3 separate regions of the Homo sapiens genome follow, and all the other regions are linked to region 1. Evidence: fine-mapped expression QTL. A gene starts in region 1. Each other region holds a variant in brackets. All regions are shown on one strand. Distances are from middle to middle.

Region 1 (8,180 bases):
AGAAAAGCATATGAAATATACAACTAACAGAGTCTGAGAAACACTGCTGCAAAATAGAGGCTTGTTTAAAAGGTAGGTGTGTTTTTTTAGCTAGGGGGGTTGGGAGAAAGGTAATTTAGGGTTAGCGCATGTCAACGTGCTGCTCCAGGGGGAAGTAAAACCACAGACAGTAAACCTTACCCAAGGCTCCTGTAAATATAGAACGATCCCACACGTTTAAAGCAAGCAAACTATAGTAATTAACCAAGAAAAAGAAAGCTTTGGACCTACCTCCCTTTTGCCACAGGGAATGGCTGGGGGTGTGGGTTGACTTCTCCTCCTGAAAATCTAAATTCTGATAGCCTCGCCAAAGGGGGGCAAAATAAGAAAGAGCATCTTTCCTCAACTTCTCCACTGTTGTCCCAGCTCCCTTTCTGGGATCGCACTGTCCCTCTATATGCCTTGCCAAGCATCACAAGATCCATTACCCATGCAGAATTGCTAACACAGTACCAGGGAACCCTGAAGGCTCCTCATTGGCCTTATTCTCTCATGGCTTGAACAAGTTCAGGTTCTACCTCAGTGGCTTCTAAGCCACATAAGCCATCTGTCATGCTGGTTCTCCAGGGCCCACAAGGTCCCCTCTCCCAGGGCCAGGCCAGAATAGCCTAAGCAAAGATATGCAGGTGTTCTAAGTCTTGCTGATGCTAAAGAAGCCAGTTCCTCATTTCCTAAATGGTCCTACAATATCATAATAACCCTAGCATACACAGTAGACTTCAGACCTTTTCTGTTGAGCAGCAAAACACTCCCCCGTCAAAGGAAAAATTATGTGAAACCCCAATACCTTAAAGGTATAAGTGCATACCACCTTTTAAAGTTTAAGTTAATATTATAAACTTCTTATAAAGTCAACACACTGGTTAAAACTTGAAACATAATGAGTTAAAATTCCATTTAACACATTTGAGAAAACATGGTTTACCTTTTACAGTTTTAAAAATACTGAAAAGAAGATATATTTCTAAAAATAAATTCAAACCAAAGGTAGTCAATTTCTAAAGCACCTCTGAGGATGAAGTTTGAGAAACACTACCCTAACTCTTAATTGCATTGCCCTTTCACTACTGAAGTTAAAATCACTCCCACTAAAGTGCCTGATTTTTTTACATGTTGGAATCAAGTCTAAACGAAAGTAACAACACTATTTTGATCAACCACATTTGAACTCCACACCCCCCACCCCACCATGTGAAGTTATACTGCAATTGTTATTTTGGTCCTCTTCATGTCTTAAGAGGCCTCCCTGAAAGTGGGAACAGGAAGGAATATTTCCTTATTAAATATCTGTTCTTCTTTCCTATCTGAGTAACTTGTTTCTTTCAGTACGAGGAATGGCTATTTTTTGCCTTTGGGTGCAAGCAACCTAAATTTTTTTTAATGATAATAAAGAAGTATTCTTCAAAGAACAGGCTTGCTGTTTGATCTTCCTTGTAAGGTTGGTGCACCTTCAGACAGAGCTGTAAAAACTAGAGCAAAAAACAAAGGTAACATTGGTTTACATATTCATCCAAAATATTTTCATGCGAGACACTGGCTCCAATGTATCTATATGGTATAGCACAGCATGTACATTGTAATGATATTTTGAAAGTATTCAACAGAGCAAATATTTTCTCCCTAATAGCACTATTAAATAGCATCCTTTCAATTTCACAGCTAGAGAAACTAAATCCCACTCATCACCCAGGGCCTTGACAAGGCTCAATCTAAGCTCTACTGACCCTGCCAGATGACCACCACCTCAAAGAGACACCTTCATAAACAGCCATCATTGACAAACAGGCATGTGATCTGGGCTCAAAAGGACTTCAGTCTATTCGTGAAGACATGGTTCCCATTCCAGCTAATAAATCATCATCATCATCATAACAAGCGTTTGCTAAAAGTGAGCTGCTGTTATTATCCTTATCCTGGTGTGTCTCCCTCTTGATGAGCTAAATTTCAGTAGTATCTACCTCTCTTAAGCATTCTCTCCCATAGAAAAGCATTAAACAGACAAACGAGGATAACAAATGTCTGTACTCAATTCTTGGCAGCAATTAAGATATACATATTATGCTTCCTTAAGAAATTACTATTTAGATACACACAGCTTCTGCCAACAATATTTCTGACTAGCCTTGTGAGAGAAAAACTACACATTTAAAGCAAAGACAAATGTCATCTGAGCTTTCTTTATGTTCTTCCCATCACTTCTCTAACCACCAAACTAAGGGTTAGTCCGTTAACAACAAAAGCAGAAAACAGACACATATAACCTAAGCAAAACTACAAACTATCCCAACTATCTCCCCTGAAACTGTTAAGAATGTGTTTCTATGTCTTCTCTTTAAGGCATCTGAAAACAGATTCTAGATCTGAAATCCCACCCAGTGGAAGTTGCAATCAGCCATGAATGGGCGCGCTCAGACCTATTCTAGTAGAGTGAGGCTGTTGCTTAGAAAGGAGCTGTTCTTTGCCACAGAGCAGCAGCGACACACTATCCTAGCTTTCTTTTCCATGCGAGAATCTGTATTTGATGAATAACTTGCTCCATGCCCCAGTAGGAGGAGACATATTTAAGTTTGGCCTTTAGAATTGAGACAAATTTCAAAAATGTTAACACTTTGCTTTGAAATTGAAAATGAACCTATTCATTAAGAACAAAGTCCAAAAATTCTAAGTGGAAAAGTAACAGTACTTTCTTCCATCCCCTTTCACCTCAAAAGCTGCAGCTTGGTCTAACTCTTTGGCAGTGCTGCCAAGGAAACAAGCTGGAACTCAGCTTCCTGAGTCAAACCCTGACCAGGGTGGTGAGCGCATTTATCCCTTTGCAGAAGGGCAGCTCATGTTCATGTCTAGCCCCGAATCTTAGCCCAGGAACAAGGAAGAGCTCCAGGTTTCAAAATAAGAGAATCACACGGAAAGGCCATTACTTTCACGTCCTGAGTCAAGGGCAGCAAAAGGAGTGACATTCATGCCTGTAACCCATCTAAGGATTAAAGGCTGAAGAATAACACAGAAGAGTTTAAAATTGACTTTGCCCTTTGAAAAACAATAAGCAATTCTGGATTTGAAACCAACAATCATGTAATATTAAAAAGGCACCTAATTTGCTGTTTGAGGTACCTGTAATCCTCCCAGGACATGTGAGTTCCTGGAAAAAGCTGTCTCTTTTGTTGTTTTTGTTGTTGTTGCTGTTGTTGACAAAGTTGTTCAGGACAAAGAGACCCTGGGGTAGTCTCCATTGTGAGAAAGATCACCAGGAACCACCTTCATGCCCATGTGCTCTCTGGCTCCCCCTCCAGCCTGGTGGAGGACCTGGCTGAAAAATACTTGAACTCAGCAGTGCCAAAGATTTTCATAACTGCATGCAATGGAGCAACAAGTCTGAGAGCTAAGGGCCAGAAGACAATGCAAGCAGTTATTTCATAAATCCCAAGAACAGCAGTTTGGGCTTATGAAACCTTTCCTGGTTTCATGAATATTTCCGTTCTGCGCCCTCCCATGTCCCCACTGTGCCCCCTCATTCCACTGGCACTTGTTCCACATCTGCAAAGTTACAGCTGAGAGGGGAGAGGCACGGAAAGGAGAAGAGGAGGGAAACTGCGGAAAGGCCTGGTGCAGGTCCAGGGAGTCCTGTCTGGCTGAGTCGGGACAAGCTGCTTAAACTCGCCTGCCTGGTGACACACCCGTGGGCGGCAAGTGAACCAACCTGCCCTCCAGCGACCTTTCCCGTGATTATCGTCAGGGGCCCCGCCACCACTCGGCCTACTGCGTTGAGCTTCAGGAAACCATTCCTCAGTTTACTGATAAGAAAACTGAGGCCGCAGCCTTCGCGGGGCAGGTCCTGGGAGCTGGGAGATCCCGGCGCCATCCTAGCGGGGGCCGCACTTACTCTCCGAGTCGCTGAAGCCGCTGCTGTCGCTGACACTGGCGCTGCTGCGCCGCTTCATGCGCTCCAGGTGCTCCTCGTAGTGGAAGTGGCGCTCGTGGAAGGGCGACGCGAAGTCGGCCAGCACCGCGTCAAACTCGCACAGCGCGTCCGACAGGTCCTCCGCGGCCGCCGAGTCCAGGGCCGGGGCTGCGGGCAGGGCCAGGGGCTCAGTGCACGGAAGTCAGGGGGGCAGCGGGACCACCTCCCAGGGCCAGGAGGGGCCGCCACGGTTCCCGAAGATAACTGACACTTGGCGCCTCTGCCAAGTGACAGCCACGCAGTCGCTGTTACCTTGTAATCTTCTCCACCACCCCCGAAGTGCGTTCTATTACCAAGTCCGTTTTACAGACAAGAAAACTGAGCCTTCGCCAGGCCCAGGGTCACCCAGCGACTTGGCGCGGCCAGATTCCTCCCCAGGCGCTGCCGGTTACCTGTCCCCGCCGCTCCCCCCAACCCCGGGCGCGCGCGGAGCTGGTGGTGGAGGGAAGGTGGGACATGGGGGCCAGCCCGGGCCGGAAAGGAGGCTGCAGCCGCCCGCGCGGGAAGACCGGGGACAGGTTCCCGCCGGGGAGGATGGAAGGGTGGGGGGTGTGAAGGGACGACACGGGGCCCCTCCTTTCTCACCCGCCATCTGCAGAGCCGAGACTTTAAGGGGACCCCGGACCCCGCACTCACCTGCGGCCGCGGCGGCCGCGGGGCTGCCCTGCGCCGCGGGCGGCTTCATGAGGCGGCTCAGCTGGGCCCGGCGCGCGTGGCCTTGGGTCCTGCGAGGTGGCAGCCGGGGCTATTCGGGGGCTTGCTGTCCCGCACACTTCAGCCCTGCCAGTCCCTTCGGCGCTGCGCTCCAGCCGCGCCGCTCCCAGCACGGTCCGCGCCCGCCCTACCACCGGCTCGGGTTCCTAGATCTTATAGCCTTCGGCGGCCGGAGCGGAGGCGGGGCCGGGGCGGGGCTGCGGAGCCGGGGCGACGGGTCTGTCCCCGCCGCCCTCCGAGGAGGCCCCTGCCCCCAGGCACCGCCCTCGCCACGCGCCCGCCCTGGAACCGCGGTGACGAGGAGTCGCCGAAGCCCCGGTTACAGCCCCAAATATTTACCCGCCTCTCGCCCCCGCGCCCTGACAACCCGGCCCACGCGGTGTCCTCGGCGTCACCAGAGCTGACTGCTGGGCGCGAGCTCTGCTGCTTCCCGCCGCGTGCCAGGCACCTCCGCGAGCCGCAGCTTCCTCGGCTGTGAAGTGGACGTGGGCATGCAGAGCCTCCCTGGCTGGCGGTGAGGGACGAAGGAGCCCGCGGCCGTGTCCCAGTCGGGTGTCGGGGACGCGGAGGTCCCCTACGCATTGTCCCAAGGGGACTTCCGAGATGGTGGGCGGGCGGAGTGGAGAGGGTCGGGGCGAGAGGGGCAGGAGTTGGGGGAGTCCTGAACTGTTCCCACCGCGGAGCGCGGGGGCCTGAACTACGGTCCAGGGCGCTCCCGCCAGCCTGACTTTATCTAGAAGGGGTTTATTATGGGAAGAAACTACTGCGTCGACGCAGCGCGAACAGGGCGCCTTGCAGTGTCCACGGAGTAACGAGCCACCCTGCCCCGCGGCCTGCGGGGGCGAACGCCCTGGACTGTGCGCTGAGCTAGGCGCTAGCCTCTCGCCTCTCACCACAGACGGCTAATTAAATGTAGAGCAATTAACATGTAACGGAGTGAAACATTCAGCCTCCACTCCCAGCTAGTTTTTGTATTTTTAGCAGAGACGGGGTTTGTCCATGTTGGCCAGGCTGGTCTCGAACTCCCGACCTCAGGTGATCTGCCCACCTCAGCCTCCCAAAGTGCTGGGATTACAGGCGTGAGCCACCGCACCCAGCCAGGATTTGTTTTCAGAATATAGAAAGACCCATCTACAAAGTAATCACAAATAGACAACCTGGTAAAAATTAAAAATGAGCAAAACATTGAAACATACACCTCACAAAGGAGTATATGTTAATGACCACTAATCATATGAATAGTCCTCCTCTCTTGTCTACTCTGGGTGGCCTAGGGATATGCTTGTCTTGTGGAGGCACAAGCACTGTGGGCTCAAGAGTGGGGAGCCTCTTTCCCTGTTAAGGGGAGGACACCACTGGGATCTCTGGTGCCATCTCCTGCAATGGATCCTCTGATGTGGGGTCGAACAGAACTTCAGGAGTTGATTTCCCTGGGTGAGTGGAGCGGGATCCTTCCTTAGCTATCTGTCCCTTTGCTACTAGTATTGCTGCTGCATGCCCTCAGCCACTGTGGGGGTTCTAGCACCAGCTGTCACCAAGTGTCTATGTATGGGAACTGGTCTAGGTATCTTTACCAGTTACCTTGTGCCACGCCTTAGAAACAAGGGACCTGTCCAGGCTTCCTTCTGATGGCCAACCCACTTCTAATGGTGCGCAATCTATTTCCCACAAGGTTCTAAGTTCCCCTGGTGGTCTAGTGCTTAGGATTCGGTGCTCTCACCGCTGCTGCCTGCGTTCGATTCCCGGTCAGGGAACAAAGAAATGGAGCATGGATGAGCAGCGGACAAAACCCCTCAGACAGCGGATTAAAGAAGGAAGAGTTTTTTTTATTCCGCTGGGAGCTTCGGCAGACTCGCGTCTTAAGAGCCGAGCTCCCGGAAGGAAGACAGAGTTCCTGGCCCGTTTAAGGGCTTACAGCTTTAAGGGGTTCCACGTGAAAGGGTCTTGATGGATTGAGAGCACATGTACTTAGAGTCACGGGGGTTGATTGTTTCACCTCAGGCCGGCTCCTCATTGCCACCGGCTGGTCTTGACACTGACTTCATTCCTGTTGTTTTCCAACTTTTACTTCCTCCTCCTCTTCAGAGACAGGAGACAGTAGCGAAATGGCTTCTCTCCTCAGGGCGACAGGATGATATTACTCCCAATATCACAGGGGGTGTACACACCCCTATGAAACTCTTCCTACTATCCAGAGGGAGAGAGGATGATATTACTCCCAATAGCGCAGGGGGTGTACACAGCCCTGTAATACTCTTCCTAAAATCCACAGGGAGAGAGAATGATATTACTCCCAATATCGCAGGGGGAGTACACAACCCTGTGATATTGTTCCTAATATCCAGAGCGAAAGAGGATGATATGACTCTCAGTATTGCAGGGGGTGTACACCCTCCTGTAATATTTTTCTTAATACCCTGGGAGGGAGAGGATAAGATTACATTGAATATCACAGGGAATGTACACTCTCCCCCCTCTGATACCCTTCCTAATATCCAGGGGAAGAGAGGATAATTTTCCTCCCAATATCGCCGAGGCAGTACACCCCCTCCCCATGATATTGTTCCTAATATCTAAGGGAGGAGAGGATGATGCTTCTCCCAATAAAGCAGTGGGTGTACATTACCCCTGTGTTATTGTCTGTAATATCCGGGGCGCGGGGGGTGCAGGGGAGAGGATAAGATTCCCTCAAATTTGGCAGGTGGTTTGACACCCCATGTGGTATTGTTTTTAATATCCAGTGGGGAAGACAATAATACTACTCTCAATATCACAAGAAATGTACATCCCCCTGTGATATTGCTACTAATATCCAGGGATAGAGAGAATGATGTTACTCCCAATATCGTCAAAGTGTCCACCCCCCCCTTTGATATTGTTCTTAATATATGGAAGGCAAGTATGATATGACTCCCAATAAGAAAGGGGGAATACACGCCCCTGTGATATTGTTCCCAGTATGCTGTGGAGGAGAGAATGATATTACCCCCAATATCGCAGGATGTGTACACCCCCCTGTGATCTTGTTCATAAGGTTCAATAGAAAAGATAATCTTACTGGAAATATCGTAAATACACTGTGTGTCCACAGTGGCTGCTAACATGCAGGGAGGGACGGAGGTTGATATTACTCTGCGCATCAGCGGGGGCTGTCCACACGCCTTCGATGTGGCTCCTAATATCCATGGGGAAGGGGGGGTAGATATTACTCCCCGCATCACTGGGGGTGTCCATCCCCTGCCATGTGGCTTGTAATGTCAGGAGGGGCTGATATTTCTCCCCGCGTCGCGAGCGTCGCCCGCCCCCCTGCGATGTGTATCGTAATAGCCAGGGAAGGAGAGGGGCGTGATATTACTCCCCGCATCGTGGCGGAGTCTATCACCGGTCGGGATACTATACACCCCCTGGGATATTGGGAGTACACCCCCTATGATATTGGGAGTAATATCATACTCTTACCCCCGAGTAT
Region 2 (8,180 bases), 61 kb before region 1:
AAATATATCTATAAAGTCTTGAGAAACATTACAATTACACTTAACAGAATGCCAGAACTGCATGTAGAAGGTTGTATAAAGCATGGTGAACCTCAGCAAAGGGGATGAGGTTTTCCCAAGTTGTTGGCACTGACAGGCATCACGGTGTCACTTCTTACAAAGTAGGCCTTAACAACTATAGTGTTTTAAGCTATGTTTTAAGTATTTTACATCCCCTTTTTTTTTTTTTTTTTGACAGAGTCTCACTCTATCGCCCAGGCTGGAGTGCAGTGGCTCAATCTTGGCTCACTGCAACCTCTGTCTCCTGGGTTCAAGCGATTCTCCTGCCTCAGCCTCCCAAGTAGCTGGGAGACAGGCGTGCACCACCACGCCTGGCTAATTTTTGTATTTTTGGTAGTGATGGGATTTCACCATGTTGGCCAGGCTGGTCTCGAACTCCTGACCTCAAGTGACCTGCCTGCCTCAACCTCCCAAAGTGCTGGAATTATAGGCATGAGCTAAGCTGCCCAGCCTAGTATTTTACATCCTAATGTGGTAGTTTATTACCTATATAGATGTTTCAACACATCTAATCACATTTGGGAAGTTGATTGGTGGATGTGTGCCTTATAACCTTTTCCATTTATAATAACAGGAAACTATACTAACAGGAACATCAGATCCCAATGCACAGCAAGTATTATTAACTATAGAGTTAATAATACAAAACACCAGTATTATTAACTCTATAGTTAATAATACTGTAATTCTTTACTTGAAATTTGCTGAGTAGACCTTAAATGTTTTCACCACACACACACACACACACACACACACACACACACACAGAGTAACTAAGGTGATGAATGAGTTAACTGATTTGATTGTGGCTATCATTTCACAATGTATATGTACATCAAATCATCACATTGTACACCCTGAATTTTATTGTATAGATTCAATTTTTTATATTGAATCTATAATCTAAACAATTATACTTCGATAAAGCTGAAAAAATAAAACTTAAATGCAGGAATTGTTTACTGGTTGGCATTTTTACACAGAACATCTGATATTCAGGAACAGATGACTGAGCTTAAGTGTCCACCACCCTCAGCAGAGGTGAGGCTGGTACACTAGCATCAAAAGAAGGCCATTTCCAAGGAGGAGCAGAGTCAGATGCCCTGTAGTCAGTTCCTATAACCTAATGCCTTGTAGGGGACAACTGTCATCTGTTTAGTCACCAAAAACCTGTATTGCCTTCTATGTTTGTGCCCCCACAGTGAGACCCACCCATCACTATAGAAATCAAAAGTGCCAGACACTGGCTTCTCCAGCCCCTGTGGCAGGTAGACAAGGTAAGTGGCGTGGCTCTGTCCCTTACAAGAAGCAGCAGGTCTCCCTGCACAACTTGTGTTCTGGTGATGGGCAGTGATGATCTTGGTGGCAGAACATCCAGTTTCTAGGTACAGGGGCTCTGTTCCAGCCAGCACCCAGGGTTGGGGCGTTGACAGTGGGCCCTGTAGCAAAGCAAATATGTCTTTCCCAGATGGGTTCAGTGGCAGAAGTTAGGGTGCTCTACCTGGCTGTGCGACTTCCAATCCACGTGCCCCAGGGCTCAAGGGACACTATGAGCTGCCCACTGTTGTTAATAAAATGTCTCTGCTTCACCAGCCAGGGGCAGTTGCTTTTGCTTGCAGCTATAAACCCTGACTGATAAAAGGATCTTGCATTTTCTTGGCTAACGAGGGGATTCCTTTATGCCATCTTACCCCCAATGTCTGCTTCTCTTGGCTATATCAAGTACCCAGTAGCCCTGGCCAATGGCCAGTGTGGGCAGAATGGCCTCCCAGTAGTCACACTCTGAACCCTGATACCTTTCAGATCTCAAGAAATTGGCCACCTTTCTAGCTAGTAACTGGAACATCCCCATGAGGATGTGCGTGCCTGCTCCCCACTGTATCCTGGCTCCGTAGAAAACCATCTCTGCCTCACCACCACCCCGCTTCCCCAGGGACTGCTTGGAGCCTGTGGGCTGCCTTGCTGCTGAGTATGGGAAAGGAGACAAAGAGCTTAGGAGGAGCACATGCTGAGAAGTTCCCCAAAGCCATCTAGGAGAGGCTTGTCTCTCGTTAACACTGGTTTGCAATTCTCTGCCCCAAATCGGACCAATCTGTCATCGCCCTGGGCTGACACAGGATGAATCAGACCCCGCAGATCTGGGGACTCCTCGATGGGCCCCCCAGCCACCCTTGGCACAGACACCCAAAACCGCTGAGCAGACAAGCCCAGGAGGGATTTCTAACCACGACCCTGACAAATGCCCAAACCCAATGCCAAGAGCCTCCTCCTCCATCCCCTGGGCCTCCAGATTGTGGGTCTTTTCCTTCACGTATGGCTATGTCTGAGAAGCCTGGTGCCTTCCCAGAAGCCTCCCTATGCTAATTACACATGTGGTCTGCTGAGGAGACTCATGCTGACTTTGGAGGTCAGAGGCAGCAAGAGCTACACAGCAATAGACTGCTTCACCTACTCCTGTGAGCACTGGGTTCTCAGATCCGCCATCTTTTCCAAGGAGCCCTCTAGTCCGGCGTCTTATCCCATGGATGTAACACAACTTCCTTCAGGTAAGTACATAGGTTTTGTAATCTCCCTAGGAAAAGTGAGGCCAAGCGAGGGCAAGAGGGACTCCCAATGTGGCAGAAGAATTCACATGAAGCCAGATTGTGCCAACTCAGGGCTGCTGGTGCCAGTGCTGGTGACACGTCCACATTGGCCGTTGATGTCATCATCCACACTGCTTACTCTTTAGAGGACAAAGGCCCCCATTTCCTCCTTTCAGTTCTTCCTCTTTCAACCCATTAAACAAAGCATTCTTTGGAAGTTTACAGTTCTCTAAGGACTCATCAAGGGGAAGAGTGAGAAGTTATCATCCCTAGAATCTAGACAACAAAAGGATGTCTTAGCTCTGCTTTCTAAGGAGTGGCTTACTCTCCAAACAAGATTTGTGTTGCTCTGTTTATCATCTCTTGCATCACGGATTGGCTTCTCCTGATGGGGCTGGCCTGCTCCAAAGCTAGGACGTCTTCCCACCCATGGGAACAGATGGCAGGGGTGATGGGGTGGGAGCAAGTTGGAGCCATCATGAGGTGCTCTGATGCCTCAGAGGCCAGAACAACACATCCTAGGCCAGGCTGTGGGAGATGGTCACCCAAAGCCAACTCAGTCCACTATCTCCACCACAACCCTTTCTGGAGTTGGGGATGATGATGAAAGCCCCAAGAATGCTCTGTCCTCATTGTTTTTGACACCAAAAATTTCTCTTCAATGTCCCATACACAAGCTGTAATGTTGGAGAGCTGCAGGGCTTTAGAGCCTGGCCCCAACCCCTCCTTCTACAGTCAAGGTGACCCTACTTCACATCCAATGCAAAGGCAGAACGCGGAAGGTCACACAGAGATGC[G/A]GTCTGTGGTGTGCAGAATGCATCCAGGTTCCATATATGGGCCTCTTTGGCCCAGCCTGAAGCCCAGCATGTGGCATAAAGGAGAAAAGTGGCTGGAAAGCTCCCAAAAGCTGACCCTGCAACTCTGAATTCTACCCACACAAATCTAGCCAATGTCCAGAATGGAGGAGAGACAGATCAGTGGCCTATTGGTTTTCAAGTCCAACTCTGATCCTCATATGCCCTGATAGATGCACCCAGATCTAGTCAGAGTTGCAGGGACTCTGATGTTGAGGAGGATCCCCAAAGCAGTGAGTACATAAGGACACACTGAACTTCACTGAAACCATCTGGTAGACCTCTGACATCTTTTTCAGCTTCGCTGCTATTGAGAAAACACAAGGCCACTATTTCTCTCCACTTTGAAGTAGCTACAGTTCATTCTGTATCCACAGTCTCTCTCTCTCTCTCTCTCCCCCCCTTTCCCCAGGCTCTCCTCTCCCACGAGGAATAGACACTAGGCCCAAGCAGAGCCTCCATAGTTGATTGGTGGGAAACACTAGGTGGGCTGTCAGGCTGGGGTCCATGCAAGTGGTGCCATGGAGAGGAAGCCACAGGAACCACCAGCCTCCAAAGAACCAGGAGAGGGACACATGGATCACTTTGGGTGAGGGAGGCTGTTAGGCTGAATAATTCCCTCCCTCAGATATCCATACCCTAATCCCTAGAACCTGTGAATATGCTGCCTTACACGGTAAAGGGGACTTTGCAGATGGGATTGTGTTACGGATCTTGAGATAAGAAGATGATCCTAGATGATCTAGGTGAGCCCAGTGGAATCACAAGGGTCCTTACAAGAGGGGAAAAGAATGGTGGGGGGCTCTAGAAGCTGGAATAGACAAGAAACAGGATTCTCCAGAAGACTTCAGAAGGAACGTGGCCTTGCCAACACCTTGATTTTAAACTTCTGACCTCCAGAATGGTAAAAGAATAAATTTGCATTGGTTTAAACCACTAAATTATTGGCAGATTAACAGGGAACTAATCCAGAGATCTCAGGCATGAATTCACAGGACCAAGAGGGAGAACTGGGACAGCCTCATGGGGTGCAGTCCCTCAGGTCACAGATCTGGTAGTGGGTGATTCCATGATCTCAAGTTACAAGAAAAGCCTACATCAACTGGCTTACACACAACAAGAAGTCCAAAGGCAGCAGGCTCCAAGCTTGGTTTTTTTGGGTGACTCAGTGACATGGAGAGGACCTTGGTTCTTCCCATCATTCCCTTCTGCTCATCTCACTGCTCTCTCAGTCACAAGATGGCTACCAACGTTCCAGGTGTCACATCTGGGCATACCATTGCCAAGACTCAGGAAAAGGAGCCATTTCATCTTTGTGTCGCTTGTTGAGAGTGAGGAAACCTTTCTCAGAACACCTATCCCTCTCTCCTGCCCCCTACACACTAGGGGACTTCCCCTCACATCTGGCTTGTTGGCCAGAATTATACACATGTCCATGCTTAAAGCAACTACTGGCAGGCAGTATCAGAGCTCTTTGATGAGTTTGCACACCAACTGGCACTTGCCCCTCAAAGCCAGCCTTCCTGAAGCATTTGGCTGTTGGGCAAAGGGTAGAGACCAGAACTAAATCAGGGCTGTGCTGGCAAAGAAGGGGATAAATCCATGGTGGGTAGGTGCGAAATTGTCTGCTCCACTGGTGCATGGAGTGGGCTTCAGAGAGACCCAGGAGTGTCTCTTCCTGGTACTGCAGATAGTCCCGGAGCTTACACAGCCTGCCCTTCATGTAGGGAGAGCTAGGATTGACTGGCTTGTTTCCATCACCATGGGGCACCTCTGAGCAGCAGTCTTGCCAAGCCACCCTGGTGCCTGAGTGCCCCCTCACCTGGCCCATTGCCTTGACCCACATTGTGACGCCTGATGGAACCATCTGGGTCTCAGGTAGCAGGGCTGGGTTCTGCTAACATGCTAAGGTACTGACACTAACAAACCCCACCTGCACCTGTGATTGAGATGGCGAACAATTGGGGCTACTTTCCTCAGAAAGCAGCTGTAGACATGGCAGGCCCCTCAAGCTTCATGGATTTCTCCACCAGCCCATTTAGTTACCCACCAGATGCAGAGTCTGCTCTCTCAGCCAGTTGGCCTGTAGCCTCCTCAGCCTGCTCATGACTGGTGATGGTGTCCCGAACTCCCTCTCCATCTGGCCACAATGCGGGCTTCTCCCTGCAGCCACCACTCACCTCATAGAAGGCATCACGGTGTCTGTCCTGGTGCAGAGGATTCCTGTGCTCACCTCACCGTCCCCCTCACCTTGCTCTCCAGGCCTCAGACACGAAGTACGAGAGGAGGAAGCTAAAACAACAACAACCAAACAGACTGAGGGTAAAAGGAATACGGAAGGAAAAAGAAAAGCAAGCTAACTGCAATGTGATATCCTGGATTTGTTCCTGGAACAGAAAAAGGACAGAGTGGAAAAACTGAATAAAGCACACTCTGAATAAAGTCTGTGGAGAGTTAACCATACTGGGCCAGTGTTAATTTCTTAGCTTTGACAAATGCGCTCTGGTTGTGTGAGACGTTAACATTAGGGGGAGCTGGATGAAGGTACAGAGAACTCTCTGGGCTATCTCCACAACTTCCCCATAAATTAATGACTATTCCAAAATCAAAAGTTTATTCTCTTAAAAAAGAAAAATAAAATAGCATGAGGCCCGGCCAGGTTCCTATGCTATGTTCCTTCATCAATCCCTGTGGCTGGGGAGAATCCTCTGCCACAGCCCCCACCCTAAGACCAATCCCAAAGAGAGAAAGAAGGACTTCTGAGAGATTTGAAACCCAAACGTTTCTAGCGTATATAGTTCCCAGGTATTTGGAAAAGGGGGAAAGGTCGGTATGAGAATCACTGGGATTAAAGAGGTGTCTTAACAGCAGGAGTTCTCAAAACTACTAATACGGTCGATGCTTTCTAACTCTCCAAGAAGGGGCTATGTCATGAGGCATTTCTCAACATTCATTTTGCTTCTCACTTAAGCACCTTGCAGAACCATCTCCACCCACCCCTGGGGGACCCCTGCGCCAGCCTGACTCTCAGGTCCTCTGCGACAGCTTCTGCTGCCTTTTCAGCCCCACCTTGAGGCCTAGTTCTGACCTTAGAACTTTCCAGATGCAAGCCACGCCCAGCATCTTAGTCTGAGAACTGGGTCTTCATCATATTATATTGAGTTGGCAACCTGCCTGGAGCCCAGGCCCTTGAGATTCTCATCACCTCATCCACATCATAAGCCCAAGCATGTGGGGAAGGACAGGGCCATCCTTTTTGACAGACAAGGAAACTGAGGCCCAAGGAGATTAAGTCCTTTGCCCAAGGTCACCCAGCAGACTGCTGCCTAGGCTGTGCCTTAGCCACCTAGCCCACTTTCCCCACTACTGGCCAGCCCCTCACCTGCTCCCAGAGGAAGTCCCCATGGGTGTCCCTGCCTGGGCATTTGTACACATTACCTGACCCACCGTGGCATTCCTGCCAGCCCCCGCCCCATCCACCTGGCCAGGACTTGCTGCCACTTCGTGGTTTGGCTGACTACTGCTGCTCCCTGCCTTTGTCCTTTCTGTTCCCACACCAGACCTGTTCTACCCTAGCGTCCCCAGCTCCTCCTGGCTGGGTACCCTGGCTGCAGTTATCCTGCCCTCCCCGCACTGTTGGCCATCGCCAGAGTTACGGCAAAAGGAAGGAGGGGAGGCTCGGAAAGAACACACCTGCGACAGGCCCAGGGGAGAGTGAAAGCATGACTAGGAACCCGTGTCCACCTGGCATCCCAGGGTGCAGTGCACTGACCCCTCCACCCCGTCACTGGGGCCTGGCACAGGCAGGTGGTCACCGCACTTGGCCACTGAAACTTCCTTACTTCCTGCTCCCCTTCAAGGGACCCAGCTGCTAACCGTGAGTTATGTCAGAACCAACCTTGTCCCGTAGACTTTTAAGCTCTTAGGGCTTGTGGGTGGGGTCCAGGGGTGACACTCCACAATCGAATAGGTCAGTCTAGGAGCCAGCGGCACTGGTCTCATAAAACTCCTGAAGTGCTGGCTGGGCACGGTGGCTCACGCCTGTAATCCCAGCACTGTGGGAGGCCTAAGTGGGCGGATCACCAGAGGTCAGGAGTTGAACTCAAGCTCCAATTTATAGCCCATTTGTCAAAAGGTCACCACCTGGGACTAGTAATTGGCATCTGAAGTGGGGGCAGTCCGTGGGACTGAGTCTTCAAGCTGCAGGATCTGACACCATCTCCAGAATTGAATTATAGGACACCCCCCAGCTGTGTCCACTGGAGAATCAGGTGCCGATCACCTGAGGTCCGGCCTGGCCAATCTGGTAAAACCCAGTCTCTACTGAAAATACAAAAAACAGCTGGGCTTGGTGGTGGGCACCTGTAGTCTCAGTTGCTTGGGAGGCTGAGTCAGGAGAATCGCTTGAACCTGGGAAGTGGAGGTTGCAGTGAGCCGTGATTGCGCCACTGCACTCTAGCCTGGGCAACAGAGCCAGACTCTGTCTCAAACAAAAAAAAAGAAAAGAAACCTCCCAAAGTGCTTTTATGCTCCACTTGTTTACTTTGAAAAGAGAGGTCTCATGCGAAGGCACTGACCTTTCTCTGATGTTACTTTGAATTGCATTCAAATTGTGACATTTTCCCTTTCCATTCACAGTCCATTCCAGAAAGATGTTTATCCTCAGTCAAAATCAGCACAG
Region 3 (8,180 bases), 90 kb before region 1:
GTGGTAGCCAGGACCCAGAGGAGAGTGAGAGAATGGCAGTTCCCCCAGGGCACACTGACCTGCAAACAGGTCCAATTTCAATTCCAGATGCAGGAAGCTGAGAGGCAGGCTCCCGCTCCCCACATTCATGCCCATCAGCAAGCCACGCCACATCCAGCAGCCAGCCAGCCATTCACTGCACAGAGGCCCCCACCAGGCCAGCAGCAGCTGTCACCCTTCTTCAGTCATCTGTTCCTCAGACACTTTTGTGGATAGGGCCCAAGTAACTTGATTAAGGTAAGATGAAATGAGAAATGTTTGCTCCTTGAAAATTGCTAACATCTGTCCTGGCTAGCAGAGCCAGCACTCTTTGTAACTGAGGAAAGAGAATCCCTGAGGAGTCTGGGTGTGGGGACGATGGCACTCCCTGTGCACCCATCTCCCACCTGCCTGCCCCTGGGAGCCTGCAGGGAAGACAAGGCATTGCTGTATGAGGACCTGGACTCGAGTCTTGACTCCACCAGGACTCTGTGTGCCCTTGAGGCAGGTTTGCTGGGAGGAGGAGCTAGAGGATGTGAGCAGGTGCAGCAGACATGAGGTGGTGCTCCATTTGCCCCTGCAAAGACCTCCTTCCTTCCTGTGAGCCCAGAAGGGAGTGAAATGACCCAGCACATGGCCACAACCTGACCTTACGGAGGTGGCCTCAGTGGGTGGGGACGGGTCTGGCTTCAGCGTCTGGTCAGGTGAATGAATGACTTCCAAGAACTGTGCACAGGGAGGTGGTTGGCAGGTGGACCCAGGGCTGGCCCCAGAGAGATATCACTGTGATGCCACTTTATAGCTGATGACATGAAGCCAAGAGGCATCTGAAGATGTTACAATGACCCATTGCTTGTTCAAGTCAGCGAGGACACAGAGAAGGAGCCAGGGATAGCGGTTCTGGCATCTCCCGCGTCTACAAGACGGCATCACCTAACACGGCCGCAGCTTCCCCACTTCTGTGCAGGCTCCAGACTGGGTCCCTATGGTGGATTAATGATGGCCACAATTCCTTGTCATTCTCCCATCAAGAATTTACTTCCCTACCCTGGACCTGAGCTGGCCACAACAGCTCAACCAAAGGAAGGAGGAAGAAGTGACACTGGGCCAGCTTCTGGCTAAGTGTTAAGAAGGCTTCTGGTTCTGCACTTTGAGGAGCCCCGAGCCTCCATGTGAGAAGCCCCCAGCTCCCTTCACCAGAAAGTCTGCATGGAGACACTGCATAGAAAGGCCATATAGGGAGCGAAGGCCTTGAGACCACGTAGACAGGCAGCTGTTCTGGGACCCTGGGAGAGCGACCAGAGGACTCCAGCCCAGGCGCATTCTGCCTGCAACCTCCCAAGAGACCCCAAGTGAGACCAGCCAAGAACTGCCCAGCTGAGCCTAGTCAACCTGCGGAAACATGGCAGGGAATATATGCTTGCTGTTACAAGCCATTAAGTTCGGGGTGGTTTATTACACAGCAGTGGATCACTAAAGACCTCTCCATTGCTGTCTTTAGGTAACTTTCTGCTGCCTTCATCTAAAAGCCAGGCCCCAGAAATCGGAAATGCCCCCCACATCAGAGTCCCTGTAGGGCGTCTCCACAGCATCCCTTGTGGTGCACGTGTCTTCAGGTCACTTCCGACTTTCATATGTCACACAATGTGCAAGTGCAGAGGATGCAGGAGGCACCAGACGGACCTCGAATTGTGAAATCCCAGGAGCCCATCTCCTGGTTCTTGTGGACAGGCTTAAAGCACAAACAAGCCCTCCTGATTCCTTTCATCCTCTTCCCTCTCCTGGGACTGACTCTGATTCAGCCCCTCAGAAGTGCCGTCAGCTCTGGCCGCTCAGTGCCCTTCAGGCCTGGCTTGTGCTCAGGCTTTCAGCCTGGGGCCCATCCCCGGCATCAGGGCAGCTTGGTTCTTGCAACCTCTTGAGTGCAGACTCGGCCTCCTCAAACCCCTGCAAGGCCTCCTGCTTCAGGGCAGCTCTGAGGGGATGGCCCGAGCCGCGTCCTCACCAGCACATCCTGATGGACCCAGCCAGCCTCCAGCCTCCCCTAACCACTGGCACTGGGTCCCCTACCCACCCGTGACAGGAGCCCCACTCTTCCAGATCAACAGGGAGATATTAAAAACTCTCATTCCAAACCAAGTAATTCTCTCCAAAAGAGAACCGGGGCCTCTTCACTCACCTTGGCCCCTATACCATGCCTTGGCCTTGGAGGGACAAGTATGGTTTAACAGATATTTTTATGAACAATTTCAAATGCATGCGAAAGCAGAGACAGATGTAGATCAGACCCCCATGGGCCATCCCCAAGGCTCATGGCCATTCTCGTTTCCCATCGCCTAGCCTCTGTCTCTGCACTCCAGGTTACTCTGAAGTAAATCCCGGCTATCACATCATTTCATTGTAAATATTCAGGCGTGGAGCTCTAGAAGCGAGGACTCCCCTCTTCAACTACAGTGCCATCGTCCACACATTCTGAGAATCTCGTCTGTGCTGGGCCCTGCCCCGAATGCCTCCCAAGTAAGGCCCACTGTGGTATACGCCAGAAATGAGAGTGCAGGGCTGGCCCTGAGGTGTCAGCTCCCCAGTTTTGGATGCTCCATAGAACATGGTAGGTCCAGAAGCCAGAGGAGAGTGAGAGAATCACAAACAGACACGCAGGACAAGATTCCAAAACCCGACTGGACTTGGACGCAGCCACGGTGCCGCTCTGTGCACCGACGCCCCCCCTCTCATCACCTTCCCCACTAGAGCTTCCTGGCCTGGTTTTGGTGTCCTTGGGTGGCCTCAGAGCTGCAGACCCCCTGAAGGTAAAATGGCTTAGTCATTCACTGTCACCCCAAGAATAGTGCACATTCCAGTGAACAGCTGAGCCCAGCAAGGGCCATCTGCCCGTGGCCCATGCACCAATGTCCCTGTACTGCCCTTCTTGGCGCTACCCAGAATGCCTCACTCAGAAGCATCGCGGGACTCCTGGCTTTCCCATACATCTCAAACAGGGACCAGAGCAAGGGAAATAAATACGAGAAATTAAAGTCTGTTTTCATTATGTAGCATTTTGAAAACAAGTTAGCTTGCAAATTCCTAAAACGCAGTAATTATGCCTTTATGCCGTTTTGTGTCTCTCATAGTTTCTATACCAGCATTTCTAACCTTGACACTATGGAATTTCAAGCCAGACAATTCTTTGTTGTGGGAGGCCATTCTGAGCATTGTAGACTTCCTAGTCTGTACCGCCGAATGCTAGCGGCAGCCTTTCTTCTCCAAGCTGCGACAATCAAAAATGTCTGCAGACATTGCCAAATGGCCCCTGGGAGGCAAAGCTACCCTTTGGTTGACAGCTGCTGATCTATACAACAGTAAGTATTGAATTCATTTGTATCTTGATTTATTTCTAATTGTCTTCAGTTCCCTCTGAAAGACATGTTTACTGACTGTGCTAGATAAATTAGAAATGAGGGGGCGACTGAGGATTTTCTCTTTAAGAGCCTCACGTTTGCCTGTCTTAAGGGTTTTGATAAAACTTGCCAGCAGTTTTGTGATCACAATGGCTATTAAGACTTCAAATATATATATTATATTTAAACCAGAAGCAGCTCAACAAAATGAAAACTAAGCAAGTAATTGTGGTATACTGAATAATAAGACTAACTCTTCTTGTTTTACAAAATTTTTTTTTTTTACACGAGATGGTCTCTAGGGTTGGAGACAGAAATAAGTCGACCCACTGTGATGTGTTTCCCATAGACTCTGAGAACTAAGATCATAGTTTTACAGGACTTGACCAAAGATTTTTATCCATTTTTTGGATTTTTTTCTCATTCCATTATTTTTCCTTTTTTATTGCACCCCTAAAAGAGGCAAAACACCCTTCACAATGTCCACATTGCAGCAAAAGCTGTGCGATGATTTACATCTAGCTAAAAAGTTAGAAGTTTCTGGAGCGACCAGTCCTGCATTCCCCTCACTTTTGCTGATGATTTCAGTAGATGGTTTGGCCCTGCCCTGCTATCAAGAAGTTCAGATGTCTTCCTTGAGCTCACAGATGCTGGTGCTGGGGGAAAGGTCCCAGGTTATTGATCACCAGGCCAAGGCAGGCTGGCTGAGTAGCTACAGAGATACTCACCATGGGCCTCAGGGCCGAGGCTCCAGGAACTCAGATCTCAGGCCAGTGCTGTGTGGCCACAGTGCCTGCTGAGGGTGCAGCCTCGCGAATCCTCAGCTACAGTGCAAGGGCTTCCTTATAGACGAATTGTCACTTTAGTAAGCAGAGAGCAGGGCCATGAGGTAATGGACTGAGAACAGGTAGGGCTGGTGAAGAAATAGAGCAAGGAACGGGTATCTGCGGCCCCTTGGAAGAGGCAGCAGAGAGCTCCATGGGAGTGGGAGGCCGGAACAGGGAGGCTGATCTGCCTCCCAAAACTGTGCCTGAGACTGAACCTCTCTCCAGCCCGAAAATAGGCCAGGAGGGCTGGGCTGCCTGTCCCCGCAGCCTCTTTAGGGTGGGGGTGGCAAGAATGTTTCTCTCCAG[C/T]GACACATCCAAGCCTCTCCCACGCCACGTTGTCAGCTACTCTGCTTTGAGGCTTAGTTCCAACCCCTCCCAGGAAGGAGGAAGAAAAGACTCATGCCTGAGACCAAGTCCCAGCAGGCATCTCCTTAGGACGGAAGATGGAAATGTTAACCTTTTCTGCTTGCTGAGCAGGCAGTGAAAGGAAGGCTGTTGTGAAGAATAGGACCCTGAGCACACTCTGTGCTTGGGGACATGATGTGCCCTTGACCACAGTGCACAGGGCAGAGGGTTGGAAAGCACTGACCCTTCTGCACAGGGGAGGCATTCAGGGCCCTGGGTTCCCACAGGGCTGGCTGGTCAGTGCCTCACGGGTGCCTAGCTGGGCTGGGAGCGGCCCCCTCTCCCACGGTCGTAAACAAGGCTGGCCTCGGGAGGGGCTGCCCAGGCAGCCGGTACACCCAGCAGGCCGGGCCCAGCTCATTCCACTGCAGCCGTGGGGGCCCTGGGGACTTAAACAGAAGCCCGTGTCTGCTAACAGAGGGAACATTGTTTTCTGGAGTGGGCTGCACTTTTTTCTCCTCTCCCTTCAGAGAGGACAGGGCCATGGAGGCGTGTTTATGTTACTGTTATTTTCAGCTTGGCAAAAATGTAAATGTGAGAGTTCACACTGACAGAAAATCGACAACATTTTCCCTGTGGACAGGTGCGGCTGTCACCCACTGCTCAGGTCCAGGAGGGCAGCTCTCCCAGGGAGGCCAAGGGTCTGGGAAGGTGAGTACACACAGAAGTCGGAAGTAAAGAGCCACCAGCAAAGGTGACCCACCTGGACACCTTCACCACAGCAGCACTGGGCTCTCCCGCGCTGTGCTGTGATGCTGCAACCCAGGCCTCATGTGTCTCCCTGGGCCTGCCTCAATGCGGGCTGCCTGTGGCCTGTCCCCTTGCCTTCTCCAGATAAAAAGTCATTCTGTTCCTGGAGCTTTTGTGGCGTCTCATTTAATCTCCATAACAATAAATTCATTCATTCATTCATTCATTTATTCAACCATCTATCCAGCCATATGTATTGACACTGGGTTCTGGGGTCAGAGAAGCGGACGGCACAGATATGGAGAGAGGAGCTTCTGGGGAAGACAGAAAGTAAACTAACAATTGCAAGAGGGATGGATGAATGGCAGCAACAACAGTACTAACCACTAATTCCCAAGACCTTGTGATGCGCTGGGCATATAGAAGCTCACTGGATCTTCCCCATGCTGATTCAAAGGACTCATTCCATCCCTGCTTTACAGAGAGAGCTGAGTCACTCAACCACAGCCACACGGTTGTTAAGTGGCAGAGCGGAGGGACAGCCCCAGGAATGCCCAAAGCCTGCTCCCCCAGAGGCAGCCCTCGGTTTTCTGAGGCCTGTGGGAGTTTGGGGGCAGATACACACTGAACATCCATCTTGGGGTCGGGGCTGTTTGCAGAACCCCAGCCTGCTGTGCAGGGTCAAAGGCTGGTCCTCTCCAAGTGTAAGCCAGGCCTTAGGGAGAGGCAAACACCACTAACTTGTTCCTGCCCTCCCAATGCTTCGGTCACGCTGGGCCCTCTAACCCCATCCTGCTGGGGAAGAGTCCTAAGGTCCAGGTAGACAGGAAGGACCAGTCTAACCCAGTGCTTCAAGAAGTGACTTAGGCAGCATCACCCATGTGTGGCCAGCTAGTGCCCCAGATCTTTGCCTAAGAGGAGAGGAGGAAAGAGCTTGGCCTGGGAGTTAAACAGCCTTCCCCTGGATCCTCCACCAATAAAGCTGATGAAGCTACTTGCTGCCACTGGCTCAATGGTGCAGGGAGCCGAGGGGGAAGCCAAGGCCTCCAGCCTGGAGTGTGGAGCCTGGCGAACAGAGGCAGGGAACACTGGCAGTCAGGGAGCGTGTGGTCAGAGGAAGTGGGGTCAGTGATTCGGGCTGGAGCTCCCCACGTGGGAGGGAAACTGCATGTCAGAGGGGCAGAGTGTGCATTGAATAGACGTCCCATTTGAACCCAGAAGGAGAAGGTCTTTGTTTGGATCTTCTTGTTAGACAAGTGAGATTAAGAGACTGACCCCACATCTCAAAAAACCAACCATCCAGGGGCACAACCAAAAAAACATAGTCCAACACATCAATCATGGTCAACAGCTGAAAAAAGATGGACGTGTGAAGGGACCAGAAAGGGAGCATGGGGGTTGCTGCTGCGGCCACTGATCCCCAGCCCTCCTGACACTCACCTGGGAAGAGCACGAGGCACTGCTTGGTCCCCATGGCTTGCAGGGCCACCCCCTCCTCCATGTGAAGATGAGATGCAGAGAGGGGCCTTGGCCCAGTGTCCTTTGGAGACTTTGGTGAGAACTTTTTCCTGTGTGTCACTATCTCCACCTTTACCTGACAGACAAAACTAAACCATAAACCACGGCTTTCTCCATTATTAGGCGCCACATGAATCATTCCCACAAACCACATTGGAATCCAAGTGCTGGGAGGATGGGCCCCTGGGCAGGAAAGTACTCAATAATGAGAGAGTCTAGTGGGAAAATATCCTCAGAATCAGGGCTCCTGTTGAACAACTGCTCTAAGAAAGTCATGTGGCGAGGCAGGCAGGGGCACACTGCCCTGTATCCCTGGCATACCAGTACATGTGGCCCAGGGGAGGTTGCAGATGTAGGTATGAGCCTTCAGCCCTCCTCACCTTGCCAGCCTGCTGCTTCTCTCGCATGTTCCTCTCCCATCCCCTTCTGCCGCAGCAGCTGCCCTTGGCCCCACTGGATCTAGGGTGCACACACCAACAATGAGGAGTTCCCTTCAGGACAAGCCCAGGAGAGAAGCCCATGCAAGCTCTGGAAGCAGGCTCAGGGCCCCCCCGAGCACAGTGTTTCAGGACCCCAATGCCCAGAATGTGGCCTAGCAGGGCAAGCATGGTTTCCTATGAGTGCATCTCCTTGGCCCTTCAGCTTCCTCATAATGTGGTTTAGGGCACAGTCAAAGGAGAGACGGAGCACCTTTCTCAAAAAGGGAACCCAGGCAAGGGTCCTATTGCCTGACTTTAATGGTGATGCCATCTGTGTGGACAGGTGTGTGTGTGTGTGTGTGTGTGTGTGTGTGTGTGTGTGTGTGTCTAGTTCTCTCCGTCTCTCATGCATACATGCATAGTCTGAGACCCAGTTAAGAACCAAGAAGCAAACAAGTCTTCATTCAACAGAACTTTGCTTAAGCAAAAACTATACCATGGCAGGATAGGTTATTCCATCCTCACTCAAGTTTTGCTTTTTATATCTCACCTCTGGTGGGAAAGGGGACTTTTTATCATTATTATTATTATGTGACATCAAAGTTATGCCAAGAATGATTCACATTTGTGAGAATCTGTTTGCTGCCACATCTCCACTATGGTGACATAACCACCATCACCTTCCCAGGAAGCGGGAGGATCAAGTTGCCCAGCACAGGACACAAATCATGAATGGGTCACTCATCAACCTGGGGCTGGAGAAAGAGAAAAGGACACCCAAGGGGAACAGGTATGAGCCCGAGGCAAACAGCGAAGATGTTTTCAGCCTCCCTGCTCTGTCCTTTCAAGCAATGGTCAGGTCAGGTACAGCCACAAGAGGAGATGCAAGAGAGGCGCAGGACAATGAA

Direction of the effects. Positions count from the first base shown, and alleles are read on the strand shown. Sizes are in standard deviations (SD) of each study's normalised expression. Not every link is listed here.
For the expression in esophagus mucosa of the gene that starts at base 4,840 in region 1, C is the low allele of the variant in region 3 and T is the other (moderate effect, 0.46 SD a copy in GTEx).

Evidence for each region.
Region 2: its variant is fine-mapped to the expression of RGCC in whole blood (TOPMed, PIP 0.97).
Region 3: its variant is fine-mapped to the expression of RGCC in esophagus mucosa (GTEx, PIP above 0.99).

What each region holds. Positions count from the first base shown.
Region 1 is chr13:41,454,210-41,462,389 of GRCh38, reverse strand. RGCC (regulator of cell cycle) reads right to left here and starts at 4,840. Exons shown (of 5, transcript NM_014059.3): 1 at 4,634-4,840; 2 at 3,920-4,105. The coding sequence starts at 4,682. RefSeq lists enhancers at 451-550, 3,798-3,927, 3,977-4,654 and a silencer at 4,228-5,067.
Region 2 is chr13:41,514,791-41,522,970 of GRCh38, reverse strand. LOC105370174 (a long non-coding RNA gene) reads right to left here and starts at 5,803. Exons shown (of 3, transcript XR_941901.2): 1 at 5,680-5,803. RefSeq lists an enhancer at 1,798-1,967. The variant G/A (reference allele first, on the strand shown) is at 3,443.
Region 3 is chr13:41,544,209-41,552,388 of GRCh38, reverse strand. The region is part of intron 1 of LOC105370174 (a long non-coding RNA gene); the gene reads right to left. It overlaps LOC105370175 (a long non-coding RNA gene), which reads left to right and starts at 187. Exons shown (of 3, transcript XR_941904.3): 1 at 187-276; 2 at 3,147-3,374; 3 at 5,229-5,503. The variant C/T (reference allele first, on the strand shown) is at 4,547.